3 separate regions of the Homo sapiens genome follow, and all the other regions are linked to region 3. The links come from fine-mapping of genetic effects on gene expression. A gene starts in region 3. Each other region holds a variant in brackets. All regions are shown on one strand. Distances are between the middles of the regions. Region 1 holds the start of MTHFD2 (methylenetetrahydrofolate dehydrogenase (NADP+ dependent) 2, methenyltetrahydrofolate cyclohydrolase). Region 2 overlaps DGUOK (deoxyguanosine kinase). Region 3 holds the start of DGUOK (deoxyguanosine kinase).

Region 1 (7,734 bases), 270 kb after region 3:
ATACAGCCACATCAGAAGGTCCTGATTACATGTGCCCAAGGTGGTCAGGGTACAGCTTACTTTTATTCATTTGAGGGAGACATGAGACATCAATCAATATGTGTAATATGTACATTAATTCGGTCCCAAAAGATGGGACAATTCAAAGTGGGGAGTGGTGTGGGGAGGCTTTTACGTCATAGGTAGATAAGATACAAAAGGCTGCATTCTTTTGAGTCCTTGATCAGCGTTTCACTGAATACACAATTTAGTCTGGCTCAGTGAATCTGCATTTTTACATAAACAATAGGGGAGGCCGGACACAGTGGCTCACGCCTGAAATCCCAGCACTTTGGAGGCCAAGGCGAGCAGATCTCCTGAGGTCAGGAGTTCGAGACCAGCCTGGCCAACAGGATGATACCCCATCTCTAGTAAAATATAAAAATCAGCTGGGCATAGTGGCGGGCACCTGTAATCCCAGCTACTCGGGAGGCTGAGGCAGGAGAATCACTTGAACCCAGGGGGCGGAGGTTGCAGTGAGCTGAGATCACGCCATTGCACTCCAGTCTGGGCAACAAGAGCGAAACTCTCTCTCAAAAAAAAACAAAAACAAACAAAACAAAACAAAACAATAGGGCAGAGGAAGCAATCAGATATGCATTTGTCTCAGGTAAGCAGAGGGATGACTTTCTGTCCTGCATCTGTGAAGATCATCTATCAATTTACATTGCCAGGATGAAATTCAACAGAACTGTTTTCAGGTAAAGATCTTGAGACCCACAAGGAATTTCCTTGTGGGCAAATTGTGAGGAAGATATGCAGCTTTCTTTTTTTTTTTTTTTTTTAATCTTTGTAGCTATCTTATTGGGGAATAAATTGGAAGGCAGGTTTGCCTGACATAGTTCCCAGCTTGACTTTCCCCTCAGTTTAGTGATTTTAGAGTCTGAAATTAATTTTCCTTTCACAGGGTGTCACTATGTTGCCCAGGCTGGTCTCAAACTCCTGGGCTGAAGTGATCCTCCCACCTTGGCCTCCCGAAGTGCTGGGATTACAGGTGTGAGCCACCATGCCCAGCCCATTTCATTATTATTATTATTATTATTATTATTATTATTTTATTTATTTTTATTTTTGGGACAGAATCTCGTTCTGTTGTCAGACTGGAGTGCAGTGGCATGATCTCGGCTCACTACAGCCTCTGCCTCCTGGGTTTAAGCGATTCTTCTGCCTCAGCCTCCTGAGTAGCTGGGACTACAGGCATGTGCCACCATGCCCAGATAATTTTTGTATTTTTAGTAGACATAGGGTTTCACCATGTTGGCCAGGATTGTCTCGATCTCTTGACCTCATGATCCGCCCGCCTCTGCCTCCTAAAGTGCTGGGATTACAGGCGTGAGCCCCTGTGCCCGGCCGAGACAGAATCTCTGTCACCCACACTGGAGTGCAGTAATCCAATCATAGCTCACTGCTGCCTCAACCTCCGGGGTCAAGTGATCCTTCCATCTCAGCCTCCCGAATAGCTGGGACCACAGGTGTGCACCACAACGCCTGGCTAAGTTTTTTATTTTTTTGTAGAGATGGGGTCTCACGATGTTGCCCAGGCTGGTCTTGAACTCCTGGGCTCAAGCAATTCTCCCACCTCAGCCTCTCAAAGCACTGGGATTACAGGCATGAGCCACCCTGTTAGACTATTTAGCCTGTTAGACTATTTAGCCTAGTCTAAATAAATGATATTTTAAGAGAGTGGGAGCGTAGAAGCAGGTCCTTTTGTGAAGCATATTAAAAATATATAATAATGTTCACACATGGGTTTCGTAACTCCCCAGTGGGCTCATCTTGCCTGCTGCCTAGATACAGCCCATTTATCAAGACACAGGAATTATAATACAGAGAGCGTTTAATACACAGAGAGCTGGCTAAACCGAAGACTGGAATTTTTTTTTTTTTTTTTGAGACAGAGTCTTGCTCTGTCACCCAGGCTGAAGCGCAGTGGCTCACTGTGACCTCCCGCCTCCCGGGTTCAAGCAATTCTCCTGTCTCAGCCTCCTGAGTAGTTGGGATTACAGGTGCATGCCACCATGCCTGGCTAATTTTTTTTTTTTTTTTTTTTTTTTTGTATTTTTAGTAGAGACGGGGTTTCACCATGTTGGCCGGGCTGGTATCAAACTCCTGACCTTGTGATCCACCCACCTCGGCCTCCCAAAGTGCTGGGATTACAGGCATGAGCCACCGCGCCAGGCCAGAGTTTTATTATTACTCAAATCAGCCTCCCAGAAAGTTTGGGTGTTTCAAGGATAGTTTTGTCCATGCCCAGGAATGACCAAGGGAAGTTTGGAAGTTAAAGGCAAGATGAAGTTGGTTAGATCAGATCATTAATGAAAGTGGTCTAACTAAATGTTAGATCGCTGTTAACAATGTTTGCAAAGGCGGTTTCAATTCATTCCTGAAAGTTCACATTTTGGGAAAAGAAAATTTCCCAAATTTTGCAGAGGGATGGAGGGTTAGTTTCCTTAAAAGATGGGAAATGTGTATTTCCTTTCCCTCTTCAATCACTGTTGCTAGGTTCAAGTAACTCTAAGGTGCCTCCTCCCCACAGCGTACTGGGGACAGGATCTGCAAATTATCACACCCAGTCTTATCACCAGTTATATAACCTGTAGGCCATTCTCTGACCTCTAAACCTTCCATATCCATTGTTTTGTGGGCTCTCAGCATCACATTCTTTTTCTTAGTCTCTTATTCATTGTATGCCTGCCTCACTCCATGCCCCATAAGGGCATAAATATTACTGATCTTTTTAGCCTGGCCAACATGGGGAAACCCCATCTTTACTAAAAATACAAAAATTAGCCAGGCATAGTGGCACATGCCTGTAATCCCAGCTACTTGGTAGGCTGAGGCACGAGAATCACTTGAACCCAGGATGCGGAGGTTGCAGTGAGCCAAGATCATGCCATTGCATTCCAGCCTGGGTGACACAGTGAGACTCTATCTCAAAAAAAAAAAAAAAAAGAAAAAGAAAAGAAGAGAAAAAAAAATTACTGGTCTTTTAAAAAATTTTTGACATTATTTCAGACATACAGAAAGGTTACAGGAAAAGTTCAAAGAATACTTGTATACTCTTCCCCACTTGTTAATATTTTACATTTGCCACTTGTTTTATGGGTTTTTTTTTTATGTATATACATTGTTATGGACTGAATTGTATCCTCTCCAAAATTCAGTGTTGACACTCTGACCTTGGAATGTGACTCTATTTGGAAATAAGGCCTTTAAAACAATGATTAAAATGGTTAAAATGGGGCTGTTAGGGTAGGCTCTAAATTAATCTGATTGGTTTCTTTATAAGAGGAGATTAAGACATTCGGAGAGGCCGGGCATGGTGGCTCATGCTTATAATCCCAGCACTTTGGGAGGCCAAGACAGGTGAATTCCTTGAGCCCAAGAGTTCAAGGCTTACTTGGGCAACATGGCGAAGCCCGGTCTGTACTAAAAATACAAAAAATTAGGCTGATGTGGTGGCGCATGACTACAGTACCAGCTGCTGGGGAGGCTGAGGTGGAAGGATCACCTGAATCCAGGAGGTTGAGG[C/G]TGTAGTGAGCTGAAGGCGCACCATTGCACTCCAGCCTGGGCGACGAGAGTGAGACCATGTCTCAAAACAACAACAAAAAAAGTAAAATAATAAAAGATATTCAGAGAGAGACGTCAGGGTTGCATGTGCACACACAGAAAAGGCCATAACACAGCAGGCATGCAGCCCTCTGTAAGCCAAGGACTGCAAGCCTCAGGAGAAACCAATCCTGCCAACACCTTGACCTTCGCTTCTAGCCCCCAGAACTGTTAGAAAATACATTTCTTTCTTTTTTTTTTTTTTTTAGATCGAGTCTCACTGTTGCCCAGGCTAAAGTGCAGTGGTGCGATCTCGGCTCACTGCAACGTCGGCCTCCTGGATTCTAGCAATTCTCCTGCCTCAGTCTCTCAAGTAGCTGGGATTACAGGCATGTGAAACCATGCCTGGCTAATTTTTATATTTTTAGTAGAGACAGGGTTTCACCATGTTGGCCAGGGTGGTCTCAAAATCCTGATCTGAGGTGATCCGCCTGCCTCAGCCTCCCAAAGTGCTGGGATTACAGGCGTGAGCCACTGCACTCAGCCCATTTCTGTTGTTTAAATGACTCAGTCTGTGTTATTTTGTTATGGCAGCCCTAGCCAACTTATACATACAAAGCATTATTTTTTTCTGAACTATTCAAAAGTAAGTTACAGACATGGTCCTTTAGTACTAGAAGCAAGTGCAATATATTCTCTTACATTACTGCATGCGATTAGCTAACACTGATAAAATGCTATTAGCTAGTTGCAGACTTTATTCATATTTTGCCAATTGTCCTATAATGTCATCTATAGCAAAAGAGAGAAAAAAAGAAGCAAGAAAGAGAAAAAAAGAAAGACAAAAAGTTTTGGGTCCAGAATCCAATCCAGAATCAAACAGCATTTAGCTGTCATGCCTAGGCTCCTTTAATGGAGAACAGTTTCTCATTCTTTGTCTTTCATGGCCTTGGAGCTGTCAAGAGTACAAGCAATTTATCTTGTAGAATATCTCTCACTTTGGGCTTGTCTGATATTTCCTTGTGAATAGATTAAGATCTACTAGTGTGTTCCAAAGCTTTACAACTGTTTTTTTTCCTGGACAGTTTTAACATTCTAGGTCTGTGATCTTTCTTCTCAATGTGAAATGAGGAATCTGTAACCGTTTTTAGGAGACTCATTGGTTTAGGAAAATCACCTTATTAAATTTACAGACTTGTTAAGAGCTACGAAGTGATGTGTCTCCTCAATGGATCCTATCAGAAGGCATATATGTGTGTTCCCTTACTGGGTGGTGCTAACTTTGATCACGTGGTTGAAGCAGTAACTGTCATGTTTCTTCACTGTAAATTTACCATTTTCCTTTCCTTCCTGGAGGCTAGAAGTAAAGGTCAAGGTGTTGACAGGATTGGTTTCCCCTGTTCTTTGTTTGTTTGTTTTGTTTTTTGAGACAGAGTCTTTTTGTTGCCCAGGCTGAAGTGCAGTGGCACAGTCTCGGCTCCCTGCAACCTCTGCCTCCCAGATTCAAGCGATTCTCATGCCTCAGTCTCCCCAGTAGCTGGGATTACAGCGTCCGCCACGATGCTCAGATAATTTTTTGTGTTTTTAGTAGAGACGGGGGTTTCAACACATTGGCCAGGCTGGTCTCGAACTCCTGGCCTCAGGTGATCCGTCCGCCTTGGCCTCCCAAAGAGCTGGGGATTACAGAAGTGAGCCACCGCGCCCTGCCCTCCTTAAGTTTCCTTGCGGGAGAGATACTTTGAGACTATGCAAAAAGTTTGCGGGAAAAAATACAGGAAGCCCAGTTGAATCTGAATTCCAGATAAGCCATAAATAAAGTATAAATATGACCTCCCAAAGTGTTTATCTAAAATTCTGATTTGATTGGGCATCTTGTGTTTTTATTTGCTAGATCTGGCAACCCTATATGTAAATATCTTGCTCCTCATCCAACTTTCACCCAGTTGTTTTGACATCTATTGCTGCTTCTGAATCAGGGTTGCACATGCAACCCTGACGTCTGTCTCTGAATATCTTTTATGATTTTACTTTTTTTGTTGTTGTTTTGAGATATGGTCTCACTCTCGTCGCCCAGGCTGGAGTGCAGTGGCGCGCCTTCAGCTCACTGCAGCCTCAACCTCCTGAACTCAGGTGATCCTTCCACCTCAGCCTCCCCAGTAGCTGGTACTGTAGTCACGCGCCACCATGTACTGATTTTGGAAAATGGTGATTTTCTAACTCCATCATTCCTTTTACTTCTGTTCGTTGGCATTCTATCAGCTTGTCTTTTCATCCACCCTTTACAGTGCTTGGCACACAGTAGGCGCTCATATAATTGTTCAACGAATGAATGAATGAACTTTTCTCTTGTGTTGTCCGGCCTTCGGTGACACTAGCGGCGTCAGGCAGGAGTTTGACTTCCTCAGCCTATCATGGCACGTTGCCGAGGCTTCAGCGCCTTACAGGACCTCGCTCCAGGCTCTTCTGGCTCCAATCAAAAGCAGGGCTCTTTCGGACTTCGCTTACGTTTAATAAAGAAAACCGGTTGGCCCCTTCGGCTCCACCTGGCTCAACAGACAGCCAGTGGCATGCGGCAGGGACCAATGGGTGGCGGAGGGAGGCGGGGCCTGCCACGAGGCCGCAGTATAACCGCGTGGCCCGCGCGCGCGCTTCCCTCCCGGCGCAGTCACCGGCGCGGTCTATGGCTGCGACTTCTCTAATGTCTGCTTTGGCTGCCCGGCTGCTGCAGCCCGCGCACAGCTGCTCCCTTCGCCTTCGCCCTTTCCACCTCGCGGCAGTTCGGTAAGAGGGTCACAGAGCTCGGTCAGCGCGGAAAGCTGAGGGGAACGGAGGGCGAGGGGCACGCCGGGCCCCCGAGGGACACCGAGGGAAGTCCTTCCCGAACATCTCCGCCCCGGCGGTGGTGGCCGCTGAGGGGTGTGGCGGGGCGACGTGGCACCGAGCGCCGCCGCAGCTCTCGACTGGGGCGCTTCCTCGGCGCGGAGGGCTGGTACCCGAAGCCCGCCTTTCGGAGGGAGCCGCTCTCCTGCGACTCGGGGCGTCGCCGGGGCCCGTGGCCAGTCGGCGGGCGGGACGGGGGTGGCGTGCGGAACGCGAAGGCATCAGTTTACGCGGAGCCTTCCGACAGCGCCGGCCGCCTCTGGCTGGGATGCTGAGAGTCGTCTGGGGGAGAACAGGCGAGGGTTCCAAAAGAGCAGCCCTCGGCGAGTTGTCCTTGCGGGGACCCTAGCGGCGGAGGGCGCTGCTGCAGCTGATGAAATCGCGGAGCCGACTTGCTCGGGGTCCCCGCGCCGCCCTCCTCCCTCCGCCGGTGGGAGTGGCCCGCGCTGCCTCCGCTCTGCCAGGAACATGAACGGACTCTGGGCACCCTAGCTTTGGCTGCAGCCCACCAGAGCCTGTCAGTGCCGGGCTGCGTACATAGAGGTGGCAAACATCCGGGAGGCTCCCAGGGCCTTAGGGAAAGGGGGAATGGAGAGTGACAAGTACCCATATTTCAGCGGTACTTGCAGAATTTCAGTTTTACAAGATGAAGAGTTCTGAAGATGGATGGTGGTGATGGTTGCACAACATATGAACGTATTTAATACCACTGAACTGCACTTAAAAATGGTTAAGATGGGCCGGGCGTGGTGACACGCGCCGAGGCTGAGGCACGAGAATCGCTTGAGCCCAGGAGTTCGAGGCTGCAGTGAGCCGTGATTGCACCACTGCCCTCCAGTCTGGGCGACAGAGCGAGACCCTGTCTCAAAAAAAAAAAAAAAAAAAAAAGTTGATAAGGTTTATGTTATGTGAATTTTACCACAATAACAAAATTGGGAAAAATATACAGGGGAGGAGGAAAGGAAAAGCTCTGTTTGCATTTTTGGGTTTCCTTGGGAAGGTGATTTGGTCGGTCATTAGAGCGCTGGCATTGTTGGCATTGTTAGAGCCCTGCACCTTACAACATCAGCCCCTTCTTTTTTTCATCTAACGTTCACTGTGTACCAGACACTATGCCAAGCTGTGCGAATTCAAAGATGAGAAAAACTGTTCTTAATGGAGCTCATGTTCCTGACAAGGGGCAGAACACGCGTGTAATTTCCAGTCAGTGCGGAAATGCTGTTAGAAATATTTCAAAGGCGCTGCTTGTTGGAGCAATGAGTTCTT
Region 2 (7,734 bases), 31 kb after region 3:
AGCAGTTCTTCTTCCTGGGTGGGACAGGTTAAGAAGACCAGTAAAGGGTCTCTCCCTCGCCACTTGTAGCTACACTATCTTTCCTGTTCACATTCAGGTGTGTCTTCCTCATGAGGACTGAGATGAAGAGGGGTCAGACTAAAGCACTGTTTGCACGGGATTTTTTTAAATAGAATTTGTTATAGCGATATCAGTAAAGCAAGAGTTATGCCAAATGCTCATAGTAGGAGTTTACTTCGACCTCTTTTTTTTTCCCCACTCAATACTGCCACCAGTTAAGACTTAGACTTCTCAGGGAAATCCATTTGCTCTGTTAAGGAAATTAATAGTAAATAGAAATATGTTAGCTTATTTTAATAGATCAATGTTAGTGTCAAGGTTTGTCTGCAAGCAGTGAATGAATAATTATAAATAGCTTTCCTAAAAAGAATTGTTCTGCCTTTGTGTGTGTACTTGGAAACATAAAGTCACATTTTAAAAAAATTTATTTTCACGAAACAGACAACATTTTTTTTCTCAGAAAGGAAAATGAGATGATAGCTTTGCTATGCTTAGAAATCCTAAAGCTACCTTTCTGGTGGGAATATAAATTGGTTAACCTCTAAGGAGGCAGTCTGGCAGTATATAATTGCAAGTGCATATACCTTTTGATCATTAATAAAATTTGTTTCTATAATTTCATTTCCTTAGAGAAAAGGTAAGATAAGAGGGAAACAGCAAAGACTCCCAAGTCTTTGGGATTATTGTGTACTACATTTGGAAATTAAGTTTTCATTTCTTAAGTAAGTTATTGAAAGAGGGAAGTCCTGGCCGGGCACGGTGGCTCACGCCTGTAATCCCAGCATTTTGAGAAGCCGAAGCGGGCAGATCACGATGCCAAGAGATCGAGACCATCCTGGCCGACATGGTGAAACCCCATCTCTACTAAAAATACAAAAAATTAGTTGGGCGTGGTGGCTCCCGCCTGTAGTCCCAGCTACTTGAGAGGCTGAGGCAAGAGAATCACTTGAACCTGGGAGGCAGAGGTTGCAGTGAGCTGAGATCGCGCCACTGCACTCCAGCCTGGCAACAGAGCAAGACTCTGTCTCAAAAAAAAAGAGTGAAGTCCTAAATCAGTGGGTTAATCCATCTGTTCTTCCAGGACAGATGATATTGAATAATGAAATGTTTGTCAAGCAGAGAGAGGACTGAGGATAATTCAGTCAAAACAAACATTTGGAGCAAAAATTTTGAGGTGTGAAAGAGCCTGGCCTGTTCCCCAGGAAAGAGGTCAAATCTGGCTAAAGCAGTGAGTCCAGGGGAAGAGCTAAGGCAGTTGAGAAGTAGGAGGGGTAGCTTTGTGTGACAGGTAAAGAAGATGTCATTTTCTGAGCCAGTGTGCATCAAACTTCACTACCAGATGAATGCAGAATAGAATTATGTACACTCTGCAAAGCAGCGGGGGAGGAGAGTTAGTCTCAAGCCTCACTTGTTTTTCCACTTCTTTGTTTTATCTTTGACCTGTGCAAATTTTACATTCTATTCCTGAGTGAATGTTTGGTATGACATGAAAGAGATATTTCAAATTACCTAACATTTTATAAATGCAATGCTATTCATACATACTGCTTTGAACCCTGGGGCTATGGCTGTAGGCGGTAAAGAGCCTGTGAAGTATTTTCAGCAAGGAAAGTCATGTCATTATATTGCCGTACTACAGACGGGTGGAGTGAAGGGGAAAAACTGGAAGGAGGGAACAGCTTTTGCCAGGAGCTCAATACAACTTACCTCAGTGACCTGTGGATGGGTAGACAATGAGGAAATAGAAGCCCACAAGGACTGCACTGCTAGTACCTTATGAAGGCAGGAATTTACTCCTGGACTTTCTGACCTTAAGGCCTGTACTCTGTCCATATGCTTCCCTGCCTCCAGGAGGCAGAACCAGAAGGCTCTTGCCATAATCCAGGTAAGAAGTAAAGAGGACCCGACCAGGGCAGAGGTGAGAGGAGAGGCAAGGAGAGAACATTCTAGAGAGATGAAAGAGAATTGAGTGACTTCCCAGATATAGTAGGGAGAAGGAAAAACAAGGAAAATTCCAGGTCCGTGGCTTGGATGACTGGATGGATGATGTTCATCATTAACCGACTTAGGATACTTCAGAGGAAGAGCAGGTTTAAGGTGGAGATGGGAAAAGAATGGTGTAGATCCTCTGATTGCATAAGAAAACAAGACAGCAGAAGCAAAGGCATGGCTTGTAATGCCCAAGATAGACATTATGGGTGGGCCTCAGAGCCCCCGAAGACTGCATTGTAGCAGCCAAAACAGCAAAGAGCTCATCAGGGCTTGGGGACTGTCTTTTAGGTTTGTTTGAAGAGACTGTACCAGAGGGCCAGGGAGGAGGAGAAAGGAATTGAGCTGGCCTATCTAGAGCAGCTGCATGGCCAACACGAAGCCTGGCTTATTCACAAGACAACGAAGTAAGTGGGGAGAAAAGAATGTATCAGAGACAGAGACCTGGCTCCCAACAGCCAGTTGTTAAAAACAAGTTCAGCATGCAGCCCCCTGTAGGAAGGTTCAGAATATACTGGAAATGGTTGGAAATGTCAAGCATTTTCCAACTCAGAAGTTTAATATTGCTGGACACCGTGGCTCACGCCTGTAATCCCAGCACTTTGGGAGGCTGAGGCAGTCACCTGAGGTCAGGATTCAAGACCAGCCTGGCCAACATGGTGAAACCCTGTCTCTACTAAAAATAGAAAAATTAGCCAGGTGTGGTGTCAGGCGCCTGTAATACCAGCTACTCGGGAGGCTGAGGCAGGAGAATCGCTTGAACCTGGGAGGCAAAGATTGCGGTGAGCCGAGATCGCACCACTGTACTCCAGCCTGGGCGACAGAGTGAGATGCCCAGAAGAAGTTTAATATTGAATATAATCTTTACATTCCAAGGGCCTTTTTATTAGATTGTATTTCTCCAGCTTTTTCTTTGTTTCTTAACATTTCCCTAGACTGAACATTGTGATTGATGGTGATAGTTGGCTCAGCATGAAGGGCTGAAAATGTTAGAGAAATTGTCAGTATTACTAAGTTGGCATTCCTGGTTTCTGCCTGTCCTCCCTTTAGGCTTGGTTTGTTGTCCACTTAAAATGTTTGGTGCTCTGACTGTTTGTTAGTATCACTCTCAAGAATGAAGAGAAACCTCAACCTTTCTGTTTCCGGCCAACTTTATTGAATTTGTTTTTTTAAATGCAGTTTACATGCAGTTTCTTTGAAAAGTCATGTTGAATTTAGATCTGTTCTCTGAGTAAGACTTGGCGAGTATGTGAAACTTGACTCAAGTTACATTTCTTTTTTTCTGTCCCCCAAACGTTCACGCTTCTTATAGGCTCCACTTTGAGGCTCTGATGAACATTCCAGTGCTGGTGTTGGATGTCAATGATGATTTTTCTGAGGAAGTAACCAAACAAGAAGACCTCATGAGAGAGGTGGGAAGGACTTTAACTCCTGTTTTCTGGTGGTTTCCTTTGTTGTACTTTTATCTTTCTGGCCTTTGCTTCAAAGTTCAATATCATGGGTCTTGTGCTTTGCATCTCACATTGCATTTCACACTCCAAGGCCTATGGAATCTTGTGCAGATTACAAATATCCCTATTCTCTAAAGTATGCTGGACTAATAATTGTTAAATAATTGACTTGTAACATGTGCTTGCCAGCTGACTTTCTTCTCTAAGGCATCCTAAAACTAGGGAAATGAGACTACTGGATTCTATTCCCAGCTCTGCCACTTGATGCTATATGACCCTGGGCTGCCCACATTTCTTCTCCATGCCTATTATTTTCCTTTCCTCACAAAAACCTCATGGGCTTGGCTGCATATGCATTGGGGGTGGACCATTGAAAATTCTGTTAAAAATGTGAAATTAAACTTCTGATTTTCTCCTTCCCACAGGTAAACACCTTTGTAAAGAATCTGTAACCAATACCATGA[A/T]GTTCAGGCTGTGATCTGGGCTCCCTGACTTTCTGAAGCTAGAAAAATGTTGTGTCTCCCAACCACCTTTCCATCCCCAGCCCCTCTCATCCCTGGAGCACTCTGCCGCTCAAGAGCTGGTTTGTTAATTATTGTTAGACTTTGCCATTGTTTTCTTTTGTACCTGAAGCATTTTGAAAATAAAGTTTACTTAAGTTATGCTTGTTTTTCTAATTCAGTTGCTCATTTATTTCAGCATGTATCTCTTGGTGCTTGCTCTAAATTCACCTCTAGACTAGTGTATTAGTCCGTTTTCACACTGCTATAAAGATACTACCTGAGGCTGGGTAATTTCTAAAGGAAAGAGGTTTAATCGATTCACAGTTTCGCATGGTGGGGGAGGCCTCAGGAAACTTACAATCATGGCAGAGGGGAAACAGGCACATCTCACATGGTGGCAGGTGAATGAGCGAGTGCAAGAAAGAGCAGGGAAACCTGCCTTATAAAACCATTAGATCTTTTGAGAGCTCACTGCCATGAGAACAGCATGGGGGACCTGTCCCGGTGATACAGTCGCCTCCCACCAAGTCTCTCCCTTGACACCTGGGGATTACAATTCAAGATGAGATTTGGCTGGGGACACAAAGCCTAACCATATCAACTAGCAATTTTCAAATTGCTCCCAGAACTCTAACCCAAGCCCTACCTGCCATGCATGAAGAAGGGAAATAAAGTGGCTCAAGAGTGGGTGGGATCTTAAATGTGAGCCCCCCAGAGCAGGAAATGGAGCATGAACTCCAGGAAGCTTCTTTATCTCTTCCCATCTGCCACTCTTGACATAGGGGACAGGTGTGGGGAACTTAAACCCTTGTCCTAGAGCTAAAGAACCTGGCCAAAAGAAAAAGGTAGAAAACAGCAAGAACCCAAAAGTTAAGCATCTGACATTTAAGATTGGCCCGCCCGGCACTCTATCTTTGTCTAAATACCTTACCCAATGACTTCCAGATAACGTTAATGGAGTGGATCTCTCTGTGCAGGAAAAAAAAAAAAAAAATTTTTTGTTGTGCTCTTTACCCTTCAAATAGAATTTATTGTTAAGGGAAGAAAAATACATGGCTCTATAGGATTGAAGTGCTCCATTGCCAGAAGCCTGCAGGTCCATGATTCACAGGAGCAGATCTGCACTGAACCCTTGACGGTTCTGCAGGTACACAGGAAGATGAATGATCTGGGGACGTAAGAGTGCCCCAGAAGACAGAAATCTGTGTTTCTGTCCTTTATGCTTTGGGGAAATGAATGTGAGATTGGTTTCTAACAAATACATAGGCCAGGCAAGGTGGCTTACACCTGTAATGCCAGCACTTTGGGAGACCAAGGCAGGTGGATCACCTGAGGTCAGCAGTTCAAGACCAGTCTGGGCAACATGGCAAAACCCCATCTCTACCAAAAATACAAAATTTATCCGGGCGTGGTGGTGTATGCCTGTAATCCCAGCTACTTGAGAGGCTGAGGCAGGAAAATCGCTTGAACCCAGGAGGCGGAGGTTGCAGTGAGCTGAGATCACACCACTGCACTCTAGCCTGGGCGACAAGAACGAAACTCTGTCTCAAAAAAAAAAAAAAAAAGTAATGTTTTAATATAAAAGTATGGCAATTTCCTTATCCTACTTATTTAAAACATTTTAATAGCTTTATTGATACATAATTCACATATTATACAATTCACTCATCTAAACTGTACGATTCAGGCCACACACAGTGGCTCACACCTGTAATCCCAGAGATTTGAGAGGCCAAAGTAAGAGAATTGCTTGAGGCCAGGAGTTTGAGACCAGCCTAGGTAACATAACGAGAGGCCAGCTCTCCAAAAAAGTAAAAATTAAAAAAATAAGCCAGGTGTGGTGGAGTGAGCCTGTAGTCCTAGCTACTTGGGAGGCTGAGGTGGGAGGATCGCTTGAACCCAGGAGGCTGCAGTGAGCTATGATCCTGCCACTGCACTTGTAGGTGACAGAGCGAGACTCTATCTCTTAAAAATAAAGTGTACAGGCCAGGCGTGGTGGCTCACGCCTGTAATCCCAGCATTTTGGGAGGCTGAGGCAGGTGGATCAACTGAGGTCAGGAGTTTGAGACCAGCCTGGCCAACATGGTGAAACCCCGTCTCCAATAAAAATACAAAAAATTAGCCGGGTGTGGTGGTGTGTGCCTGTAATCCTAGCTACTCAGGAGGCAGAGCAGGAGGATCGCTTGAACCCAGGAGGCAGAGGTTGCAGTGAGCCAAGATCGCACCACTGCACTCCAGCCTGGGCAACAAGAGCAAAACTCCATCTCAATAAATAAATAAATAAAAACAAAAAATAAAGTATACAATTCAATAGTTTGTAGTATAGTAGTCATGGGGCTGTATAACCAATACCACAATTCCAGAACATTTTCATCACCCCAAAAAGAAAGCCCATACCCCATCTCCCCCAAGTTTCCCTGCTGCCAACTCCCAGCCCTAGGCAACAACCAGTCTACTTTTGTCTCTGTAGATTTGCCTATTCCTGCAATTTCATATGAATAGAATCATACTATGTTGTCTCCTGTAACTTTTTTTTTTAACTGAGCATAATGTTTTCAAAGTTCATCCAAGTGGTAACATGTATCAGTACTTCGTTCCTTTCTTCCCCCACAACAGTCTCACTGTGTTGCCCAGGCTGGAGTGCAGTGGTGCAGTCACAGCTCACTGCGGCCTTGAACTCCTGGGCTCAAGCCATCCTCCTACTTCAGCCTCCTGAGTAGTTGAGACTATAGGTGCACACCACCGCGCCCACTAATTATTTTATTTTTAGTAGAGACTGTCTCACTATGTTGCCCAGGCTGGTCTCCAACTTCTGGTGTCAAGTGATTCTCCTGCCTCAGCCTTCCAAAGTGCTAGGATTACAGATGTAAGCCACTACACTCTTCACCTAGTTTTAAAGCCTGAAAGTCTACAAATTCAGCATCTCTATTGGTAAATATTGCCTTTTAGAAAGTAAACGTTGGCTGGGCACTGTGGCTCAAGCCTGTAATCCCAGCACCTAGGGAGGCCGAGGCGGGCGGATAACTTGAAGTCAGGAGTTCGAGACCAGCCTGGCCAACAAGGTGAAACCCCATCTCTACTAAAAATCAGAAATTAGCTGAGCATGGTAGTGCAGGCCTATAGTCCCAGCTACTCGGGAGGCTGAGGCAGAAGAATTGCTTGAACTGGGAGGCAGAGGCTGCAGTGAGCCGAGATTGCACCACTGCCCCCTAGCCTGGGTGACAGAGCGAGATTCTGTCTCAAAAAAAAAAAAAGTAAATATCCTCTAGGATAGTGCGGGCCATCAACAGTGTAACCTAGGTGATATTTGTCATTTTCCAAATTTGTAGCCGAGATCATCTGTAGAGAGTAAACATATTAATGAGCAGCAGTAATTTTGAATCTTAAATTGTGGGGGAGGGACAAGTAGGTCTGGGTGGAGCCTGTAAGTGTGCAGATTAGGACCACAGGAAGGCAGGCTGAAACCTTGGGCACCGTGGGTTTTTAAAGTGGACGCTAGAGAGTGGAGGTCACACTAAAACGGTCCCTACTCTACACTCAGGCCAGTCTGGATGGCTGTTATTCTTGGTTTAGGCCAACTCCCAGCGTCAAAAAATTTGGATTAACACATAAGAAATAGCTGCATTTCTTTCTGGCTTACGATGTGGTAAAACCTGCTGTTCTGGAACCTGAATATTACCTTGATGGGTTTATAACAAGGATCAAGGTTGTGAAAGTTCTCAAACTCTCAG
Region 3 (7,734 bases):
TGGATAACTTGAGGCCAGGAGCTCAAGAGCAGCCAGGCCAACATAGCAAAACCCCGTCTCTACTAAAAATACAAAAAATTAGTCGGGCATGGCACATGCCTGTAATCCCAGCTACTTGGGAGGCTGAAGCATGAGAATCGCTTGAATCTAGGAGATGGAGGTTGCAGTGAGCCAAGATTGCCCCACTGCACTCCAGCCTGGGCAAGAGACTCTGTCTCAACACAAGAAAAGAAAAGAAAAGAAAAGAAAAGAAAAGAAAAGAAAAGAAAAGAAAAGAAAAGAAGCAAACCACAGAGATAAAATATTCACAAAGGACTCATCCAGAATATTTGAAGAATAAGACAAGCAAAAGACAACCAATAGAAAAATGGACATAAGACTTCAACAGAGGATACTGAAATGACCAATAAACATACAAAAAGATGTTTGACTTCATTAATCAGCAGGAAAATGCAAATTAAAACCACAATAAGTTATAATTACACACAGCAAAATGGATAAAATTTAAAAAGCTGACAATATCAACTGTTGGTAAGAATGTGGGAAAACCAGAACTCTCTCTCACTGATGATGGCAATGTCAACTAGAACAAACACTGTGGAACTATCTACTATTTGGGAATATCTATCAAAGCTGAGCATATATATGTAACTTATTACACAGCAGTTCCAGTCTTACTTATACACCCAAGAGAAATGCATACTTCTTTTTACCAAAAGACATGTACAAGAATATTTACCGCAACACTATTCATTATGGCTCAAATCTAGAAACTTCCGAGTACATTGTGGTATAGTGACATTGTGGAATACTATACAGCAATGAGAATGAGTGAACTACAACTAATACATTCAACCTGGATGAATCTCACAGATATGTTAAATAAAAGAAGTATTTACTATATAATTCCATTTATATAAAGAAAACGCAAAACTAATCTCTACTGTTGAAGTCAGGCTAATGGTTATCTTTGAGGGATAGTAACTGGCAACGAATATGGGGGATTCTGGAGATGCGGATAATGCTGTTTCTTGATCTGAATCCAGGTAACAGTCATTCCATTTGTGAAAACTTCATTGAACTGTACACTTACAACACATCCTCTTTTCCTCACTGCACAACACATCCTCTTTTCCTCACTACATACTATGCTTTACCATAATTTTTTTTTTTTTTTTTTTTTGAGACGGAGTCTCGCTCTGTCGCCCAGGCTGGAGCACAGTGGCGCGATCTCGGCTCACTGCAAGCTCCGCCTCCCCGGTTCAGGCCATTCTCCTGCCTCAGCCTCCTGAGTAGCTGGGACTACAGGAGCCCACCACCACACTCCGCTTTTTTTTTTTTCTCTCTCTTTAGTAGAGACAGGGTTTCACCATGTTAGCCAGGATGGTCTTGATCTCCTGACCTCGTGATCCGCCCTCGTCAGCCTCCCAAAGTGCTGGGATTACAGGCGTGAGCCACCGCGCCAGGCCACTTCACCATAAAATTTTTAAAAATAATTTTTAGGAGCTCTGTTACTGGTGGAGGGTGCCCAGGTTCTTGACATTTTGAACAAAGAATTGGACAAAACGTACAAAGCAAGGAAACAATGAAGCAACAAAAGCACAGATTTATTGTACATCAAAGAACACTCCTTGCGGTAGGAAGGGCCCAAGCAAGCAGCAATTACAGAATTTTCTGGGGTTTAAATACCTTCTAGAGGTTTCCCATTGGTTACCTGGTGTACACCCTATGTAAATGAAGTAGTGGCCAGCGATCAGTCTGATTGGTTGCAGGAGGGGACCAATCAGAGGCTGAAGTAAAGTTATGAAGTTATACCCCATGCAACTAAAGACTTGGCCTGCCACCAGCCTGACTGATTGCCCGCGGGGACCAGTCAGAGGTACTTTCAATTTTTTATCTGCCACCCAGAAGAGGGATTAGCTTCTGGTCCTTTTGTTACTTGGGCTAGAAAGTTGGGGTTTTCCTTTTGATTTAGTTCTAGGAAGTCAGCCTAAATCGGCCTTAGGTTCCCTGTCTCCAGACCCTATTTTCCTGCCTCGTAGCTTTTAGGAGATTAATGCCTGCCTGCAGACAACTTCCTCATTTAACTTTCACAACACCCCTGAGGCAGCAAGATCCTGGCGAGGCAGAGAGCCTCTCAAGCTTTTTTGGATGAATATTTTCCAAGTCTGAGTTTACATAGGTAAAGAAATGTAAGCAGTTTTTTTTTTGTTTTTTGTTTTGTTTTGTTTTGTTTTGTTTTGTTTTAACAGAAGTGGCTGCTGGAGTGGAGATGGGAATGGGTAGGACTTTAGCCGCTCCAGTAGCCATTAACGCCCCACCCTGGTTATCCTTAAAAAATTCGATTAAAAAAAAAGTTCTTAATATATAAACATGACCTCAGCCATCCTATATATACATCAACATAAGAAAAAGGTCCCGTGCTTTTTATGGGAACAGCTTCAAGACAGGTATCCCAGCCCCCGGCCCCTCCCCAGCCCCCTTGCAATCAGATCCTTGTCTTCTAAAACCTGCCACACCTAAGAGCGCTGCCTGAAGGCCGGTTTGGCCTGTTGACTCCTGGTTTTGACTGTTGGTGATTTAAGCGATTGGAACTGGAAGCACCATTTGACAACATTTTGTAAATCATTACTTCTGAGGTTGTTATGACGACGGGGTGTGGCAGTCCGGCTTCACCTGTGGCAGCAGCTTAGGTCCCTGCCCTCCTGCAGAGCACACTTCACCGACAGCAGGACTCAGGTTTTATACAAGTCTCTACTCGCCATTGCTTACGTCCAAGAACCCAGCCTACCAGGTTTAAACAATTTCCAGTCACATACCTGAGCCACCACCACCTTATCCTGAAGGGATTTTTGGGTATAATGCAAATCGATTGACCGAACATTTATTTACTTATTCAAGACACAAACTAAGAGATGGGGTGTAACTGATTATCTAATTTGTTAATTTAGTCAATAATATGCCAGCATTGTGCAGGGGAATTACAGGGAATAGGAAAAAGTTAAATTTGTGTAAATCATCAGATTGAGTCATTTTCCTACTTTAAAACTTCCATTTTCTTCCGATATTAAAATAAAAACCAGACAACAAGCACCTGGGGGGGGGGAAATCCCCTCTTAAAATTACAATTTCTATTTTTAATTTTGTCTTCAGTTATAAAATTTATTTTAAAGTTATACAAAAATGAAGTGGTTGGATTGTGGAATTACGTCTTTTAAAATGTTATTTGTCCAATGAACAAAAACCACTCGCACCGCAACTCCTTTTACTATCAAATTCTGCACCGTTGCAAAACTTCCTTCACTCAACGCTTCTTTACAAACATCGCGATAGCGGAGCGGTCTCTTGGGCGCACCCCGCCGCATGTTCAACCCCACCCACTTCCTGTCTGACGATCTCCTTACGTCAACGGTGCGCTGGAGCGAGTGAGCAGCGATACCTAGGGCGGAAGTGCTCTCGGCGGAAGTGATCGCTGTGTGAATCGTGGGTGGGATGGCCGCGGGCCGCCTCTTTCTAAGTCGGCTTCGAGCACCCTTCAGTTCCATGGCCAAGAGCCCACTCGAGGGCGTTTCCTCCTCCAGAGGCCTGCACGCGGGGCGCGGGCCCCGAAGGCTCTCCATCGAAGGCAACATTGGTAAGGGCCGGAAAGCGGCTGCCAAGCCTTGGCCTCCGCCACGCAGGCGACAGAGGCTGGGAAAGGAGCTGGGCCCGGAATGGCCTGCGTCTGATGCGGCCGGCCTCTTTTTCTGGGCTGCGAGGAGAGCCTTTCCCCTCGCAAAGTGCACTGTGTATCTTTGCCTCCTTGTTTTTAGGATATCGGGCCTCAGTACCCGCCCACAGGAACATATTTGTTGGGGCATAAAAGCCACGCAGTTAGTGGATAGGACAAGAATTGTATTAGCTGTTTGTAATAGATCGAAATTGAAGCGACAAGCGGGTGCAGTTTATTTGTTCTCCTAGATAGGGTTGCCATATTTAGCAGAAATTAAAAATAATATCCAGTTAAAATAGAATTTAAGATAACGAATAATTTTTAGTGTGTGTCCAATGCAATATTTGGGACATCCTTACAGCAAAACAACAACGAAATCACTCATTGAAAGTTCAAATTTAACTGTGTCCTGTATTTTATCTGGCAACCCTATTCGAAGAGAGTTCCTAAATTTCAGTCGTTCAAATACCACATTCACAATTTTTGCCCTGTGCCTGTGCTAGTTGCATAATAATTTCTTAAGGCTTTTCTTAGAAGAACCTCACTTTTTAAACTTAAAAACATGTATTAAATTAAAAATTATTTTGTTAAAAGAGTGAGATCCAGTATCTTGAATAAAAAGTAGTCAGAAAGCAAAATGAAGGCAAAGCATTTCGATTTAATATTAATAAATTCTGACTTGATACTTTTATCTACCAAGTCACTGAGCCCCTAAAAGGGGCTTAGCAAGTGTTGAGTACTGAAGACGTAGCAGCAAACTGAGAATTTCTTTTTTTATTCATTCAACAAATCACCTTTTGAGCCACTTCCATATGCCAGCACTGTTCTTGGCCTGGAGAATACAGCTGTGAATAGAACAAATAAAAATCTCTGCTCTCATGGAACTCAAGTAGGGAGAGATGGACAATAAACAACATAAATTAAGCAAGGTGAACAATATGTTAGAGAGTAATAAGTATGATGGAGAAAAATTAGGGATGAAGAATTGAGGGAAGTTTTTATTTTATTTTATTTGAGATGGAGTTTTGCTCTTGTTACCCAGGCTGGAGTGCAATGACACGATCTCGACTCACTGCAACCTCTGCCTCCCTGGTTCAAGCGATTCTCCTGCCTCAGCCTCCCGAATAGCTGGGATTAGGGGCACCCGCCACCACACCCAGTTAATTTTTGTTTTGTTAGTAGAGACAGGGTTTCACCATGTTGGCCAGGCTGGTCTCAAACTCCTAACCTCAGGTGATCCGCCTGCCTCGGCCTCCCAAAGTGCTGGGATTATAGGCGTTAGCCACTGCACCTGGCCGAAGTTGTCATTTTAAATAAAATAAGCAAGGCCTCACTGAGAAGGTGACATCTGAGCAAAAAACTGAAGATGAGGGAGCAAATCACGTGGATACCTGGGAGAAGAATCTTCTAGGCAGAGTGAAGAGCAATTGGAAAGGCCCTGAGGTGGAAAGTGTGTTCGGGGAATAGGAGGGAAATCGTTGTGACTGAAGTCGAGTGAGCAAGGATGGGAGGGAAATTAGGGCAAAAGCCCAAGGGGTGGCCAGATTTTATAGGCCTTATCATGGGTTTTTAATCTTACCGAGATGGGTAGCCATTGGAAGGTTTGAGGAGTCAAGTGACAGTTTTACTTAGATTATAAAAAGATCACTGTGGCTGATAACATTGAAAGTGAAGAGTGTTAAGTGGTATTGCAATAATTATAGTATTGTGAAAAGTGAAAGTGGTGAGACGTGATTGGATTCTAGTTATACGTTAACAAAAATTGAGTTACATTTTAAGTAAAATTTAACAGTGGAAGTGGTGAGAAATGATTGGGTTCTAGTTATATTTTAAGATAGGGCCAATTGGATTTGGTGACAGGTTGAATGCAGAGTGTAAGGTAAAGAGAGGGGCCAATGATGACTCCAATTATTTTGACTTGAGTACTTGAAAGATAGACTCCTGATTTTCTTTTATTTCCTCCTCTCCTTCTTCCTCCCCTCCCCTCGCTTCCCCTCCTTTGGTGTGGTCTTGCCCTGTTGCCAGGCTAGAATACAGTGATGCAATTGCATCTCACTGCAGCCTGCCTCCCAGGCTCAAGCCATCCTCCCACCTTAGCCTCTTGAGTAGCTGGATCCACAGGTGTTTGCCACTATGCGTGGCTAATTTTGTATATTTTTTGTAGAGACAGGGTCTCACTATATTTTCCAGGCTGGTCTTGATCTCCTGGGCTCAATTGATCCTCCTGCCTTGGCTTCCCAAAGTGCTGGGATTACAGAAGTGAGCCTTGGTTTTAAGCATGTTAGGTTTTTACATGCCTATTAATATCCAAGTAGAGGTGTTGAATAGGTAATTGGATATGTAAGTTCAGAATTAGGGTCTCCCCGGACTGGAGCTGTAAATGTAGGTGGTATTTAATGCCAGAGACTATGTGTTGATGGAAAGGACTGAGCCCTGAGCATGCAAATATTATGAAACTGGGGAGATGGGAAGGAATAAGCAGAGACTGAGAAGGAATGCCTACTGAGGTAGGAGAAAAAAACAAAAGAGAATGATATCCTGGAAGCCAAGTGAAGAAGGTATTCAGTGGGAGGGAATGATCAGCTGTGTTATACTGTTTAAGTAAATGAAGGTCTTTGGTGAACTTGAAAAGAACAGTTTTAGGAGTGTTAGGAGTGAAAGCCTAATTGGTATAGGTTCAAGGAGAATGGGAGGTGAGGAGAGTGGGTTAAGATAACTGGAAGTTTTTAGAAAGGGAAGTCATGGGGTGGTAGCTGAAATTAGAAGAGGGTGTGAGTGTTTAACATTTTTAATTTTCTTTTTGTGAAAAGAATTAGAGCATGTTTTTAAGTTGACAGAAGTGGTCTAGTGGAAAGGAGGAAAATTGGTAAATCGGGACAGAGGATAGAATTGCTGGAGTGATTTTTAAGCAAGAAAGAATGGAATCTATTGCCCAGTGGGAAATAATTTAGTCTTAGCTAGGAGCACAATTCATCCCTAGTAACAGGCGTGATGGCAAAATATATGAGCACCAACTTCAGAGGGTGTGGTGGGAACTTGGGAAGGTCTTTTGGTTGTGTCTGTTTTCAGAGTGAAGTAGGAAGAAAGGTCATCAGCTAAGAGTGAATGTAGAGACAGAAGACATGAAATACTCTAGTGAATAAGCAAGAGAAATGTTGAATTACTGGGTACCATTTAGGACCCACTTGGAGTTAGTGGTCATGAATTTAAAGTGAGACCAGTCACCATGGCTGTGTGTTTTTCTCCAGCCAAATCCGAAACATTGAAAGGAATGGGAAGGGAGAGTCCTGCTATTTGCCTGATGATGTTATTATTTAAATATGATGTTTTGTACTGTACTTTGAGAAACACACCCCTAAAGGAAGCTCTGTCCTCAAATCCCAGAGAGAGAACAGGGTATGTCACAAAGTAAGTACTTAGGACAGGTCATCAGATAAGGTTTGAACTCCCTCTATTTTCCTGACTTTTGCTTCTTAACCTTGTCAAATTTCTCTGCTTCTTCCTTGCTTTCTTGTGCAACAGAGGCTTACTGAGTGAGGACTAAGAGTCCACTCTCATGCTGAGCACAGCAGTGAATGGGATACAGCTCCTGTCCTTCAAGGAGCTCACAACTCACAACTAAGTAGGAGAAAACAGATTCGACATAATTTTCTTTTTTTTTTTCTTTTTTTTTTTTTTTTTTTGAGACAGAGTCTTGCTCTGGCACCCAGGCTGCAGTGCAGTGGTGTGATCTTGGCTCACTGCAGCCTCCGCCTCCCAGGTTCACGCCATTCTCCTGCCTCAGGCTCCCAAGTAGCTGGGACTACAGGCGCCCGCCACCATGCCCAGCTAATTTCTTGTATTTTTTAGTAGAGACGGGGTTTCACCATGTTAGCCAGGATGGTCTCAATCTCCTGACCTCGTGATCCGCCAGCTTCGGCCTCCCAAAGTGCTGGGATTATAGGCGTTAGCCACCGTGCCTGGCCGACTCGACATAATTTTCATACTGTGTGGTGAGATTTGTGATTGGGCATGGAAAGCCA

The links.
Region 1: its variant is fine-mapped to the expression of DGUOK in whole blood (INTERVAL, PIP above 0.99).
Region 2: its variant is fine-mapped to the expression of DGUOK in whole blood (TOPMed, PIP above 0.99). The same link has a PIP of 0.9 or more in fibroblasts.

Annotation. Positions count from the first base shown.
Region 1 is chr2:74,192,374-74,200,107 of GRCh38, forward strand. MTHFD2 (methylenetetrahydrofolate dehydrogenase (NADP+ dependent) 2, methenyltetrahydrofolate cyclohydrolase) reads left to right here and starts at 6,242. Exons shown (of 8, transcript NM_006636.4): 1 at 6,242-6,369. The coding sequence starts at 6,269. RefSeq lists enhancers at 1-466, 467-1,194, 5,904-6,462 and silencers at 6,171-6,310, 6,501-6,780, 6,911-7,000. The variant C/G (reference allele first, on the strand shown) is at 3,571.
Region 2 is chr2:73,954,785-73,962,518 of GRCh38, forward strand. It overlaps DGUOK (deoxyguanosine kinase), which reads left to right. Exons shown (of 7, transcript NM_080916.3): 5 at 2,341-2,456; 6 at 3,362-3,461; 7 at 3,926-4,162. The coding sequence ends at 3,952. It overlaps DGUOK-AS1 (DGUOK antisense RNA 1), which reads right to left. Exons shown (of 2, transcript NR_104030.1): 2 at 3,183-3,423. Among named protein-coding and RNA genes, the nearest start is that of DGUOK-AS1, 23 kb to the right of the region's middle. The variant A/T (reference allele first, on the strand shown) is at 3,965.
Region 3 is chr2:73,923,419-73,931,152 of GRCh38, forward strand. It overlaps DGUOK (deoxyguanosine kinase), which reads left to right and starts at 3,462. Exons shown (of 7, transcript NM_080916.3): 1 at 3,462-3,634. The coding sequence starts at 3,493. RefSeq lists an enhancer at 3,494-3,763.